Linked DNA regions of Homo sapiens: region 2 is reported to be linked to region 1. Evidence: microRNA targets listed by miRTarBase, many of them from high-throughput screens and not tested one by one. Region 1 holds a microRNA gene; the other region holds the end of a gene's coding sequence.
The links. Region 1 holds the annotated microRNA hsa-miR-548aj-5p (UGCAAAAGUAAUUGCAGUUUUUG, at 5,731-5,753, opposite strand). A microRNA usually pairs through its seed, bases 2 to 8, with sites in the 3' UTR of a target mRNA and lowers its output. Matches are read on the target gene's strand: a 7mer-m8 pairs with bases 2 to 8, a 7mer-A1 pairs with bases 2 to 7 and ends in A, and an 8mer does both.

Region 2: miRTarBase lists ZZZ3 as a target of hsa-miR-548aj-5p. Seed matches in the 3' UTR shown: 7mer-A1 at 3,378-3,384.

What each region holds. Positions count from the first base shown.
Region 1 is chrX:38,018,219-38,026,702 of GRCh38, forward strand. It overlaps MIR548AJ2 (microRNA 548aj-2), which reads right to left and starts at 5,768; the gene lies at 5,677-5,768. The region is part of intron 1 of SYTL5 (synaptotagmin like 5); the gene reads left to right.
Region 2 is chr1:77,559,132-77,566,820 of GRCh38, reverse strand. ZZZ3 (zinc finger ZZ-type containing 3) reads left to right here. Exons shown (of 15, transcript NM_015534.6): 14 at 640-740; 15 at 1,037-4,405. The coding sequence ends at 1,181. AK5 (adenylate kinase 5) reads right to left here. Exons shown (of 14, transcript NM_174858.3): 14 at 6,855-7,689. Among named protein-coding and RNA genes, the nearest start is that of ZZZ3, 120 kb to the left of the region's middle.

The sequences.
Region 1 (8,484 bases):
ACAGTTGTTATGGAGGCCTGCGTTAGTGAGACCTGGCCTGCCACACTCTGTCCATTCTTTAAATATTGTTGCTTCTCATGATTCTATCTTTTGCCCCTTTCACTTCTCTTCCTGGTAATCTCACTTGCTTGCACAGCATCAACCACCATCCACCATCGAGGCACCAATGATTCCCAATTAAATACCTCTAGTATAGACATCTGATAAGCTATAAACAGTTTATGGGAAGTTTCCTATTCTAAATGCCTTTCTGGACAGGTCTTTGTTGTTGCATCATAAGTACCTTTGTTGTTGCACCATAAGTATCCGGACCTCAACATATCTAAATTGCAATTAATTATTTTTTTTTCTCTTTCAACGTTTTTTGTCTTGTACTCTCCATCACTGTGAACAGTATTATCATCAACATTTCTAGGCTTTACCCCCGTGTTACTGAATCAGGCTCTCTGGAGATAGACACCCAGAAATCTATTTTTAACAATATACTTAGGTATTCTTATGCACACTAAAATTTAAAAACCTTTGCAGTTCCCCATGCTGGAAACCTCAGAGTCATTCTCTTTTCTCTTCCATACCACCCACATCGAAGAGGTCACTGGATCTTATTGAGATTATTCTAAAACGTCCCAAAAGTGACTCTTATTTTCCTTCCCACTACACAGCTTTAGTTCCTAATCTCTCCCTGGCACTTCTGCAAGAGCCTCCTCATTTTGTCTACCTGACCTTTCCCCTGTCTTTCATCCAATCACTGAGTGCTGGTCTTTCAAAAAACAAATAAAAAATTCAAATATGATTGCGCTGTTCCTTGGCTTTAAAGCTTCAACAGCTTGATGGCATGAGAACAGTTTTCAGGCTTCTTAAGGTCATGGAATTCTTTCTTCAAATAAAATCCTACCAGGAAATCTAACTTATAGAACAGATGAAAACGGAGCTGCTCTGTTTGAAGCAGTCGTCGGCGCCACAGGCTTGGCCACTCAGCCTCTTTCGCTGTGTTTCCTAAGAAAACATTCCTGAAGATACAGTTTGAAAAACACTGGATAAAGTCCATATTCTTTGTTTGGATGCCAAATTCCTCCCACTCTGACATCCCCCTTTCTCTTAGCTTTCCAATATTAACCCAGACCCCAGACCTGGAGTTAGTCACTATTTCTTCTGGACTAGTTGTGTGTTCTTATGACTTTTTCACATTTGCTGTCTCTACAACCTAGAATGACCACTTTTTTCTTCCTAATTGTTTTTTCCTTTGTGTTCTCAAAGCCAAAATTGGGATTTATGAAACTGTGATTTTATGTTTATGCTTGTCTCCACTAGAAAATAATAGAAAATAGAGAAGCCCCTTGAAAACAGAACCTATGCATTCTTCATGAATGTATCCCCTAGATCCAGCACAGTTTCTTTTTTTGTTTTTTATTTGTTTGTTTGTTTGTTTGAGACAAAGTCTCACTCTGTCGCCCAGGCTGGAGTGCAGTGGCGTGTTCTTGGCTCACTGCACCCTCCACCTCCCACGTGGAGGGTGCCTCAGCCCGGGTGCCTCAGCCTCCCAAGTAGCTGGGACTACAGGTGTGTGCCACCATGCCCAACTAACTTTTTATTTATAGCAGAGATGAGAGCTCATTATATTGCCCAGGCTGGTTTCGAACTCCTGAGCTCAGGTGATCCGCCCGCTTCGGCCTCCCAAAGAGCTGGGATTACAGACCTGAGCCACAATGCCTGGCCCAACATAGTTTCTGACACATGATTCTATACGTGTTTACTGCACGAACATTTATATGCTCTATAACTCATTCTATCTGTTCTTTGGTTTTATATTTTCTTCAGACCGAACATGTCTTTTTGAATTAAACATCACTTTAGGAACTAGATGTATTAACTTCAAAGCTATATGACACTCATACTGTTCTTTGCCTGTGTTGTAGCCTAGCATGATAATTATTGATAATCAGTGGATATATGCATTGTGCATCATGACATATGAAGCAGAGGTAATATGGCTATAAGATATTTTTGACAGAAATGCCATTTGCTGTATTTTTTTAACTGATTTTATATGTAACATGTATTCATTGTAAAAACATATAAAGAAAATTATAAAGAAGATATTAAAATACATTTATAACTATCCAGAAATAGACTTAATATTTTGGCTTATTTTTTCTCATTCTTTCTTCTATAATACATATATGTGTGTGCATATATATATATATATATATATATATATATATATATATATATTTCTTTTAATATAATTGGGACCATACTGCATAAGTAATTTTGTATCCTGAGTTTTTTTCACTGCCTTTGTATTGTGAGCCTTCAAGCATGCCATCACATATAAAAAGACTATTAGTATTATTAATAATGGTATTAATTAAAAATTATGATGTTTCTAAGGAATTGCTAAGATTTATAAATTCTTAATAGAAAGTCTAGGAAGCCAGAGACCTCTGGGTATTTTGTGAATCAAAGGGAATGGAGGTTTGTGTTGGACTGATGCATTTTAATGACGTATTGCTTAACTTCATTGAGAATAGAAACGATGGAGGGGTCTAAATTTTCTGAGCATCTGTTATATGCCAGGCATTGTGCTAGACACTTTTTATACATTAACTCATTTTAATATTCAAATGATATATTCTTCAAACCCAGGAAGTAGATATTAATATGCCCATTTAACAGATGAATAAACTGAGATGCAAAGACAAAGTAGCACATCTATGTTATTATCTCAGGGAGTAGAATTTTAATTCCATTAGTTTCCAAAGCCCATACCCTTTCCTCTACCCCACACTTTCTCCAACACCAACTTTGAGAGGGTACACAAAGTCAGTCTTTTATTCTGAAGATGTTGTATTAGCAGTGCTTACCCTGTGGACCATAAGCCCTTGGGTGACCACAGTTTATAAACCCCTGAAATTACCTCCCTTTGTCATTAGAATGTATATGTATATTTTTGAGGTAGAGAGCCTATAGTTGTCACTGATTATCTAAGGGATCAACTGTTCCCAACAATGTTTATGAATCTCTACTGCAAATAATGGGATGTATACAAGTATTGCAGAAGCCCTTTGAGGAGTCTTTAGTTTTGCTTGTCAGGCCCTGTGGTGAGGGGCTATATTCCAATTTTCATTTTAGGCATCACTTCTCAAATGTCTTATTTTGCATTTAATTCATAAATTTATTCATTTGGCAATATTTTCAAATACCTACTATGGTGCCAGGAGTTGTGAGGTGTTAGGAATACAGGGCTGATCAAGACAAAACGAGATATCCCACAGAGCTTAGACATTAGCAGGGAAAACCAATGCATGTTGGTTAAAATCAGCATTTTAAATCAGCATGATGAGTGCTTGGCATAGTCCTTAGCATTGTTCACCAAATATTTACGATTTCTTCCTCTTGTAGGCAGATGGCAGGATACCATTTACTGGCCCCCTTGTAATTGGGTAGGGCTAAGTGACCATCAGTTCTGTTTAAGGAGTTGTAAGTAGAAATAATGTTTTTCACTTCCAGGCCAGGACATTTAATTCCTACTATGAAACCTTTCAGAACTCTTTTTTCCCTCTGGTGTGGCAATTGGCAGTGTTCAAGATGGTAGCTCCCTAAACAGCCTGGATTCTTGAGGGATATATAGCATGGCCAAGAAATATGAAATAAACCTGTGCTGTTACAAGCTGTTGCAATTTGCGAGTTATTTGTGTCACAACATAGTCTACCCCAGTACTGCTCAAAATGTCTGTGATGAAGGATCAGGTTGTTTGTTACTTTTATTTTCAACCTGGATAGAATAGTATTTTTGCAAAATACAATTTAAGTAAATTAGCAGATAAATGAGACATGAAATACATAAACATTCAAGTACAAATTTTCATCAGATTCAACAGATTTAAAATTACTCTGTCAAATTACTATAAAAATTTCTAAATGCTTATTCTTAATTTCTTTACTTATATAATTGCAAACCAGTAAGTTTACAGACCTGCACTGGTTTGCAACCCAAACTTTGAATAAAGCTGTATTAGCCTATCCCAACTGATACAGTGTTACTGTAAGAGAAGTATGAAAATGTATTGGATAGATACTATGAGTTTCCAATTGCTGCTGTAGCCAATCACCACAAACATATTGTCTTAAAACAATACAATGTATTATCTTACAGTTCTGAAGGTTAAAAGTCCAAAATGAGTCTTGGGAGACTAAAATCATGGTGTTAGCAGGGTTGCATTTCTTCTGGAGCCTGCAGGAGAATCTGTTTCCTTGTCTTTTCCAGCTTCTAGAGGCCATCTGCATTCCTTGGCTTGTGGCTGTTCCTCCAACTTCAAAGCCCATCACCTCAGCCTCTGCTTATGTCGTCACACCTGCTTTTCTGACTTTAACTCTACTACCTCCCTCTTGTAAGGATCATTGTGATTACATTGGGATCACCCATCTAATCCAGGCTAATCTCTTTATCTCAAGACCTTTCACGTAATCACATCTGCAAAGTTTTGCCATCTAAGGTAACATATTCACAGGTTCTGGGGATAAGGATGTGGACTTCTCTGGGAGCCATTATTCAGTTTATCATAGATAGCTAAGCTAAACTAGGAGTCAGCCATTTAAGTAGATCCCTGTGGATACTTAGGAATTAGGAGATGGAGAAATGGGGGAAGTATCCCAGGCAGAGTCTTACAAATAGGAAGATCTGGAGGTGAGGAAGATTATGGCTTTTTTAGAGGAATGAACTTTTGAGTGTGGTTAGAGGATAGATACGAGAGAGAGAGATCAGCAAGGGACAAATCATGAAGGGTTTTGTAAACCATATTAAACAACTTGAACTCTTAAAGAGCAAAGGGAAGACATCAAAGGGTATTCAGTATAAAAGCAACAATTATCAATTTGTATTTTGGAATTGCATATAGAAGAGCCAGATTGGAGGCACAAAACTATGATGCTGATGAACCACGGTGGTGTCACCTAATTCACAGCATGTCTGAAACCCAAATCCATTATTTCCCACAAAAGCCAGCACATTCTCCATCTTCCCTATTGTTTTCTTCTAGGATTCAATTCTTAACATTATTTTTAGCCTCTTTCTTTCTTTGGCTTCTTACTCTAGTCAGTCACCACACCTTATTGGTTCTTGAAAATTTTTTAAAGACATAATATATGGTTACATGAATACATCCAAAATAATAAACAATATGGAAATAAGTCCCTTTTCATCCCTTCTCTGACCCCTAACAATCCAACTCTCATCTTCATATGCAACCTGATTCATTATCAATATGTATTATCCTGTGCCTTTTATTATGCATTTACATTTATTATGTACATGCATATATCTACTGCATTGTTTTAAAAGCATTTGCATTAAAAAGCATAATTATCTTGTCTATTTTCAGCTCGCAATATAACTTAGATATTTTCCATGTCAATATATTTATTTTAAATGCCTCATTTTAAAATTGAACATCGGTATTGCTCTCTTTTCCAGCTTCGAGAGCTTCTAACTCTAATAGATTCTAACAGTTTCTAACTTTAGACTATTACAAACTTTATCTTATAACTTATTTTTCAAATCTTTCTCTTTTGAAATTTTTATTAAGGCTTTCTCTTAGCCAGCATTTTTAAAGGTAGAAGTAGTCTTCTCTTTAAAAATATCAAAATACACAATGCCAAGAAAATAAACAGTGATCTTAAATATTAGGTTGGTGTAAAAGTAATTGCAGTTTTTACCATTAAAAGTAATAGCAAAAACTGCAATTACTTTTGCACCAACCTAATACCTTTTTCCAAACTGAGAGCTCTGTGAAAATTCACAGTGGACATTAAAGACTCTGAGAAGTTCTGTAGAAAAAAAAATATTTAACTTGGTTTAACTCTACATATCCAAATTTTTTGTTGAACTACATCACTTGATATGGTTTGGCTGTGTCCCCACCCTAATCTCTTGAATTGTAGCTCCCACAATCCCCACGTGTTGTGGGAGGGACCTGGTGGGAGGTAATTGAATCATGGAATCATGGGGACGGGTTTTCCCATACTGTTCTGGTGATAGTGAATAAGTCTCACGAGATATGATGGTTTAATAAAGGGCAGTTACCCTGCACTCGCTCTTTTGCCTGCCACCATGTAAGACGTGCCTTTGTTCCTCCTTTGCCTTCCACCATGATTGTGAGGACCCCCACCCCAGCCATATGGAAATGTGAGTCCATTAAAGCTCTTTTTTTTTAAATAAATTACCCAGTTTCAGGTATTTCTTCATAGCAGTATGAAAATGGACTAATACAGCACTGTTAACAATTCCATATAATATCTAATAACATCTCATGGGATACTGTTGTTCCATGAAGTCACTGTGTGGCCTCAAATGTAGTGGTTACAAGCAGGGTCCCTGAAACCAAACTATTCTGAATTACTTACCAGTTGACCTTGGGCAAGTTACTTAACATCTCTGTGCCTCAGTTTTCTCATCTATAAAATAGGAATAATAGCAATTTGTTTCATTAGGAAGTCATAAGGATTAGTTGAATAAGTGTTAGTGGTTATTATTTGGAGCATTCTGAGGATACTGCTCTTGAAGTATTGGTATGAAGTTGATGGCACTGTTAGCCTCTCTACTGTTATTTGAAGAATCCATATCATTGTGAAATTAAAAAAAAAATCTTGACTATGGCACTCCCATATAATGTACCACACAGAATTGCCCGTGTGAGAAGAAACAGCTCTGTTGCAAAGAAATTCCTGTAATTCCATAGCATCTCTCTTTGAGTCATTCAGTTTGGGGTTCGTTGTAAAAGTACTACTTTTTTCTCTATCCACAGCATGACAGTTCTTACCTTTTGACAGTCTTGTGGACTGCTGTGCTTGTGGTAATCCAATCACAGCTGCTTTGCAGGATGACTGCTCCTCTATTTGAAAGGCATCCTCAAGGGTATTTTGCGTATGTGATTTAGCTTGTATTCTAAGCATCCTAAACATCTCTGTAAGTGTGCTGAAAATTCATCTAATTTGTATTGTCACATGGTGACAGTCAAACAGGAAATTAACTTTATTTCTATTAATTTCATCCTAAGAGCACTCTCAGAAACATTCTATATTTAAAGCTGCATTTCAAGTACACAGTAATGAGATATATTCAGATATACCCTTTCCTTTGATTCAAATATCGGCCCCTATTATTTTTAGGTGTGTGTTACTCAAAATAGATGCTTTTTAAACTTATGTCCCTTTGTGATGCTATGAGAGTATTTGACTACCACATCTTTTTGATAATCAGAAGTTAATGACTTGTCCAAAGTTATCTATGCTGAAAGGCAATAGAATGACATACAAAGCATCTTGCCATCTTTCTAAACAGCTTAGCATAGTTCAACAAAGTTACTGGCCACAGAGGGAAAAATCTACATCTATATTTAAAGAGAGAGATCTGTTTAAGTTAGGAATTGAACAATAAAAGAAAAATGAATTTCACCCTCCTAATCTGACTAGTGTTTACTAGCCCCATTTAACTAAAAGAATGAGGATCAATTACTCATTTTTTTCTCTACTTGATTAAAATGTGTAATGGGTAAGGGATTCTCCAGGTGAGGTATGAAATCGCTGAAAAGAGACACACAGTGATGATATATCCTCAGGTGAAGTCATTGCAGTCCAGATGCTGGTCTTCAGTGCAAAGGCTGAAAAATTTGATTTGGTTAGCACACAGCAAACAGATCTGACATGGGTTCAAACTAAACCAAATATGGAGAACTCCATAGACAGGACCAGAACATTCACTCCTGAAGGGAGAGCTCTATGGGAAGCCAACTTATAATCAAAAGTGTCTGGAAGGAAGTGAGATTGAGCAAGGGTAATTAGCTGTATGATTTGAGTGATTCGTGGCATGAAAATTTCTCAGAATGAGGCTCCATCACCTAGCATGGAACATGCGCTACAGGGAACAAACAACTATTTTCATTTTCATTCCCTTTCTCTAGTTGGAGTCTGGATGGGCACTGACATCACCTAGCTCCTTAGATCTTCCTTGTCTATGCCTTGGTTCACTGTCTCCTTTTCTTCACCCTGTATTTCTCCGGAAGGACTGCGTTATCATCAACTGCATTCTATCTTACTAAATTTATAGTCATAGTTCAGTGCTGCCTTCTGGAGAAAACATCCTGATTTTCTTGATAGAGTTTTGCCTACTTCTGATCTCCTTAGCCAACTGTTACTGGAAAGGGGTCCCGATCCAGATCCCAAGAGTGGGTTCCTGGATCTCACACAAGAAGGAATTGGGGGTGAGTCCATAGAGTAAAGTGAAAACAAGTTTATTAAGAAAGTAAAGGAATAAAAGAATGGCTACTCCATAGGCCGAGCAGCCCCAAGGGCTGTTGGTTGTCCATTTTTATGCTTATTTCTTGATTATATGCTAAACAAGGGGTGGATTATTCATGCCTCCCCTTTTTAGATCATACAGGGTAACTTTCTAATGTTGCCATGGCATCTGTAAACTGTCATGGCACT
Region 2 (7,689 bases), not on the chromosome of region 1:
CTGTCACAATGCCACCACGCTGAGAAAGAGCTAGATCTGCCTTTTTGACATGATGGGCATTGGTTATTAGGAGTCTTTAGGCTTTGGGAGAGCGATTCAATAAGAGATAAAAGTTTAGACAGAATTTCATTGTTGCCTGGGTTTATGTTAGCCAAGAGAACCTGCTAAAACAATTCTGTATCAATTACCAACAGTGAAGCACTACAGGAGGCAGCTGTGGCATTGCTTCCTTAACCAGTATTTGGATAGTTTTAACTATGGTATTAACTCTCTGTTTCTCAACCATAGTCATCATACAGTGGTCTGAGGTACCTTTCAAGTAGATGATTACAAATAACAAAACACCCAAGTTGGAGATGATTTACTTTTAAAAATTTTTAAATAAATTTAAGCTGATTGAAGATTATCCCTTCCAATGTTCCTCTCACTCACCCATATCTTGATATTGAGTGGATGGAATTTTACCTAGTTTGCTAGAAATTGTCTCTAACACATAACCATTTGTGTGTTATATTACTGTCCTGTGCATGGAGAGAGAAGAGAAGATGTCTGTGTGCACATCATGTGTTTCCTTGTGGAAAATAAAAAAGATCGTGGAACAGTATAACTTAATACATTTTCTCTCTGAATCTGTTATAGTGTGATAACTGTGGCATAGAACCCATCCAGGGTGTTCGGTGGCATTGCCAGGATTGTCCTCCAGAAATGTCTTTGGATTTCTGTGATTCTTGTTCAGACTGGTAAGTGTTTTCTTCATTGTCAGTCTTCAACTTAGACAAGAAAAGAGCTTCTCAGCCATTAGTGAATTTGATTTCCAAACATAGAAAATATTAATACCCACACTTAGTGAATTAAATTTTGTTGTTCTAGGCAATTAATTTTTTTCTGTAATCATACCACATGTCAAGTAACTTTCCGTTGGAGATTTTGATAGATTAATGGATTTAAACAGGGAGAGCTGTGAGGAAGCTTTGTAATACACAGACTAAAATGCATCCACTACCATGTAATGATGTGTGTCTTTTTTTCTTTACAGTCTACATGAAACAGATATTCACAAGGAAGATCACCAATTAGAACCTATTTATAGGTCAGAGACATTCTTAGACAGAGACTACTGTGTGTCTCAGGGCACCAGTTACAATTACCTTGACCCAAACTACTTTCCAGCAAACAGATGACATGGAAGAGAACATCATTTACTAGTCCTCTTCAACACATAGCAATGGTATCATTGTTAATTATGTGCACAGTTTGGAAAGATTCTCTGCTTTCCCAGAAATGACACTCACAGCATGAGAGCTTCCTGAGTGTTCTCGTCAAGTACAGCTCTGCACCGTTGTGGCTCTAGATCACTGTTCAGCAGCTGAACATTCCTGGTGAGCAAAGGTTTCCCTGGTGAATTTTTCACCACTGCGTTTTAGGTGGTGATCTTAAATGGGTGAGATGGAACGAGAGCACACATTAAAGAGAGAGTAAATTCCAAAGGTTTCAAAGAACTTGGTCATAAATATGATAATGAGAAGACAAAGTATTTATATTAAAACAGTTTAGTAGCCTTCAGTTTTGTGAAAATAGTTTTCAGCACAGAAACTGACTTCTTTAGACAAAGTTTTAACCAATGATGGTGTTTGCTTCTAGGATATACACTTTAAAAGAACTCACTGTCCCAGTGGTGGTCATTGATGGCCTTTAGTAAATTGGAGCTGCTTAATCATATTGATATCTAATTTCTTTTAACCACAATGAATTGTCCTTAATTACCAACAGTGAAGCACTACAGGAGGCAACTGTGGCATTGCTTCCTTAACCAGCTCATGGTGTGTGAATGTTATAAAATTGTCACTCAGATATATTTTTTAAATGTAATGTTATATAAGATGATCATGTGATGTGTACAAACTATGGTGAAAAGTGCCAGTGGTAGTAACTGTGTAAAGTTTCTAATTCACAACATTAATTCCTTTAAAATACACAGCCTTCTGCCTCTGTATTTGGAGTTGTCAGTACAACTCATCAAAGAAAACTGCCTAATATAAAAATCATATATATGGTAATAATTTCCCTCTTTTGTAGTCTGCACAAGATCCATAAAAGATTGTATTTTTATTACTATTTAAACAAGTGATTAAATTTAGTCTGCACAGTGAGCAAGGGTTCACATGCATTCTTTTATACTGCTGGATTTTGTTGTGCATCATTTAAAACATTTTGTATGTTTCTTCTTATCTGTGTATACAGTATGTTCTTGAATGATGTTCATTTGTCAGGAGAACTGTGAGAAATAAACTATGTGGATACTGTCTGTTTATATTATAGAATGCTTGTTGTGACTTCCTTTTGGTTAGATTTTGGATTTTTTTTTTTACCAGTGTTAAAACCAGAAATTGGTATTTTTTAAAATGGTTTGCTTCACATATTTAAGAGTTTTCTTTCTGTCATTTATGAAGAATAAGGAATGTATTATGGAAAAGAGGGTGATCTTAAGCAACCCTGTAAAAAATGGTAAAGATTTTTACTCAGTGTGTGCTGAAACACTAAATTAAACTAGCTTACAAAAAGGAAACACGGACCATGGTTAAAGAAAAAGGCAATTATTAATGCTCAGGTGTGAAAACTAAAGTTGAAAATTTTTTTTCTAGTTGTGTCTCATGAAGATAAGCCCCCATGTATTTAAACAGATGGCTTTTGAAAAATCACCTTGTTTCCTGGAAATTACTATTAACTATAGGAAAAGATAGTATAAATATTCTAAGATTGATTGTTATATTTGACCCAATTTTTAGAATCACCTGTTTTTTCCTATTTTAAATCAAGGGAACATTATTTACTAGTTCTCTTCAGTACATAGCAGGGTACTAAAATCATACCCTGAATTTTTTTTAATTGAGAAAAGTAATAGAATTTTAAATATAGAAATATGAGAATTTTAAAGTAATATATTGATTAAAGATCACTGATGATATAGATATAATATATCATAACAGAAGGAAAGTAAATGGACTTGAGCTTAACTTCTCACCCTGGAATTATTAGTGGGTGAAGAGGGGAATCATTAGCATTCTGGGCGTTTTTATATTAAATGTTTTGTGAATATGCCAGAAGATCTGCCTTCAACTTGTAATTAGGCAAGATAGTAATGCTTGATGGTAACTTCTATGTTTGTGTAGAAATAATACCAGTTAGTTTTGGAAAGCCATTCAGATCCATTCAAAAATTCCATAAAGTATGATGTATGCTTTGGAAGAGGGATATGAGTGATACAATTGTTATATAAATGGAATAGACAAACCATTTGAATGCATTTTTCTAGGGCAAACATTTTTTGAGATTTTTGAGTTAAGAAGATTTTTCGGCTTGAGCAGAAGATGTGTTTGTTTTGCATTTTTCAGCTCCAAGGAAACAGCCCCCATGGCTTTAAAAGGCCCTGAAGTTCAGATAGTAGTAGGTAGTGTTTTGTTATTGTTTTAATTTGAGAGTTGCAGGAATAATGGGCAGAGCTGTCATTTGCCGGTAGGCTACCATCTGCCTACATAGAATTATTGGACTGTAAGCTAAAACAGACTGTAAAAGACCTACTTGCTAAAGCATTGCTTATTCAGTGGTATTCAGTAGATAAGATCTATTTCCTGATATATTGTGCTCAAGTTATTTGCACATCTTAAGAAACTTTTAATATCTAAAACCATTGTTGTAAGATTTAGGTAGAGGAGGTTTCCTTTTGTGTGATGCATAATAATAGAAAACACTGATACAGTGTTTACTATGTGCCAAGCAAGCATATGATAACTAATTCTTAACAACTCTATGAGGCAGGGTCATTTATTATCCTGTTGTCATATGAGGAAATCTCGCCAGAGAGAAGTTAATTAACCTGCCCAAGGTCGTATAGTTAGTAAAGTGGTCATGCTTGGATTTTAACCTAGGCAGATTACTTCAGAGTCAGCGTCTGCCTTACTATCCTGTTTCCTGAGCAGGAATTTCCCCTTGTGTCAGGCAACACTAGGTGTTAGGAGTGGAGGTGTGCAGATGTTGCCTTACATTCTGTTTTCCTGATGTGGTGTGCTTCCTAAGAGTACAAACCTGAGCATATGTCCAGGCTTGCAAAGTCTCAGGCAAAGCTGGGACTAAGGCTTGTGTTTCCTGCCTTGGGTAGGATTTTCTTCTATGCATGTTGGGTGCTTCTCACTTAACCTAATAGTATGCCTTGTCTGTTTTCCCCCCTTCCCCTTTTTGTTTAAATTGATTCACAGAACACAAAAATTTACTAGGTATGAACATTTGAAAAAATGGAATAGAGAAAATGGTACATCACATGTAATAAAGATAAATATTGTTTTGTGAAATGTCTTTTTCAATCATAAATATGTGTTGTGTGCTATATAAAACTATTTCTTATTGTGGATATTGAAGTTTGAAGCCTGTTGTTCATCTATAGATGCACTGGATGGGATTGGAAGTCTTCAGATTTCAGTAGGGTTTTCCACAAGCTTATGAAGACATTGTTCTGTTTAGGCTGTAAACTGTTTTTATTTCTTGATGAAAAATGTTCTTCTATTTATATGATCCCAGAAAAAAGATACAACTTTTTTTTTCTACAGTTAATGTAGCTAGTTAACTAGAGTTTTCAGAGTTATAATACATTTAGCTCCATGAGAACAGAGACGATCCATGTCTGTCTGTATCTCTAGGGCCTGGCATTTAATAGATTCTCAATAAATATGTGTTGGTTGTATGACCAACATTTTGGTGAGTTTACATTTTTTTCCTCCAGGAACTTGAGAGACACCACCTATGATTGAGTGTGTCTGTGAGATCCTTAGAGGCCTTGCATCAGAAGGTCATCTTGACAGTTCTGTGAGAGGACAGGGGAATTGGACTCTATCTTACCCAAAGGCTGTGATTCAACCCTGGGTGGCAGAGGTGGTTTTGGTTCTCTGTGGGACCCTAGATAGGCTGTGTATCTTGATTCTCTTCCATGTTTTTAAGAGTAGTGTAATGGGGCTGGGCATGGTGGCTCACGTCTGTAATCCCAACACTTTGGGAAGCCGAGGCAGGTAGATTGCTTGAGCCCAGGAGTTTGAGACCAGCCTGGGCAACATGGCAAAACCCTGTCTTTACTTAAAATACAAACAAATGGGCATGGTGGCACGTGGCTGTAGTCTCAGCTACTCGGGAGGCTGAGTTTGGGGGAATCACCTGAACTTGGGACGTTGAGGCTGCAGTAAGCCGAGATGGTGCCATGGCATAATAGCCTGGGGGAGAACGCTGTCTCAAAAAAAAAAAAAAAAAAAAGCAAGGTAATGGAAAGGACACTGGAGTGAAAATTCTGGGTCTTAGTCCCAGTTGTGGAAGTGAAGCACTCAGTAAGTGTTGACAAAGAACTACCTTTCATTGCACATTAGGAGCTAGTAAATGATTCGTGTGTCTTACTAACTTTTGTTTAATCCTCAGTTCCTCTATGAGGTTCATTACTATTATGTTCTCCATTGTATACATGAGAAAACTGGAGGTGCAGAGAGTATGTTAAATATGTTAGCTCTCAATAATAATTACTGTGTGTGGGACTGGAGATACCAAGCCGTGTCCTTATGGAGGTTATAATCTAATGCAGAAGACCAGCAATAAGTAAGTAAATAAAAACTATTACTTCAATTCAGGCAGGGATAAATGCTTTGAAGATAAGTAATGCTCAGAGAAAAATAATAATGGGAGAATGGGGAATAGTCTGCCATTTTAGATGGAATAAGCAAAGAAATCCTCTATTGGCCAGGGTAAATTCAAATAGAAACCAGAATAGAGCAAGGGAATTTGCTGCATGAATAATCTGTAGGAAGGGGCAGAAGGATAGCAGTAGCACACGGGCCCTGAGCCAGTAGACCGTGGCTTGTTCTGGCAACATTAAGATGGCCAGAGTAGCTTAAGCCAAATGAGCAAGAGGAGAGTAGTAGTTGATGGCGTCGAAGAGGGCACAAGCCAGCTCAGATGTGGCCTTGAAAACACATCATTGTAAAGGAGTTTAGATTGTGTTCTGATGTCTTCTACATACACACAGGTCTTTCGCTAGACAGAGACCTCTAAGGTCTTTTCCAGTATTAAAATCTTATGACTTTAAAGTAGTGATATCATTTCAAGCCATTCAAATCAGTAATGTGTTCTAGAGAAGAGTTGATTTGCACTTCTAGATACTCTTCAGGGGCAAAGCCATTTACCCTTGCTAAATTTTTCAAGGTGGCTGTCAGCTACAGCCGTAGAAGCCTGTAAAAGATGGCTGGACCTTTCTGCCCCTCTGCTGTCTCATTTTCCTTACCTGTGCAGTCAGAGCTGTGCTGGGCATGGACTGTGTCTGCCAGTATATGGTATGTGTTTCAAGAATGTCAATCCCTACAAAGAGTCATTTTATGTTTTCTGGCACAACTGATGATTTTCATCCTGTAACCTTTTTTTTTTCCAGTTTGCTCAGGTACTTATTATGCTCCCCGATAGAGAGTGTGACAACTTGGGGTAGTATTAAAGTATTTGACAACTGTTGGGAGTTATGGGAACATGCCCCTTTTTGTTAATAGAGGCGTAACTGTAACCAAAGAAATTTAATTTCTTCTTTAGCAAACACTAACATTTCTGTTTCAGAATGAGTGCTAGAGAAAGAGGAAATATGACAGTTACCATGTATCATGAATACATTGAGTTCTCTCTGTAATAACTCAAAACTGATCTATAGCTAAAATTAAAACCATATAAGCGTATCGTAAATCATCTTGACTATTTCTGTGTTCGCTTCTAATTCTGTTTGGAATAAGGCTTCAAATGCTTTCCAGAATGATGTGAGTTACAAATAAATAGAAAAAGAGTTATCCTGTCTTCCATTTATTTTATTTGTACATATCCATTTCAAGAAAAAAAAATGACTTAAAAAATACAATTCTATCCCAGAAATGGATCCTTATCTGCACAGCCATTGAAGAAAAAAAAAAAAATTCATGCAAACTGAAACTATGCTTTTTTGTAGTGACTGAGTGGAAGATGCAGTTATTCCAGTAGAATATATAAGCAGCTCTGATTTTACAACTGATTGATAGCACAAAAGAGAACCCAAACTTCACTGGTTTAATGCAAGGAAACACAGTTTTGCATATGGGTATGACAAGGTTTGCAAACTCCTGGAAAGGGCCCATATGAAACAAACACATTGAACACACCACTTACTGACATGCCCCTCCCACCCACATCAGGTTTGTTAGGGTATTTTTTTACTTGCTTGGCAACAAATAAATACATGGGTGACCATTTAAAATCAAAATTATAATTTGATATGTGCCCAATGAATGAAATAGCAAATATCTCATGCTTTTAAGTTACTTTTGGTCATTTATATTAATTTATAATTGCTGAAATGCATCACCATGTAGAGAAGAGACTAGGTTACACAATTTATCAGATTTGTTCTCTTAGCCATGACGACAGTATTCCAAGTTTCTAAAAAATAATAATAATAGAGAAGGTTACTGATGACTAACCTGGGTTTTACCATCATCTTGGGAAAGCTATACATCTTCATATTTTAAAATTTCTGTCAAATTTTACTTGCTTGATGCCTCTATATCATGTACAAGGCATTGTGTAATCAACCCACCTTATGGCTCTGAGCCACCAGTGGATGAGAGTTGACAAAACAGCCAGACACCAAAG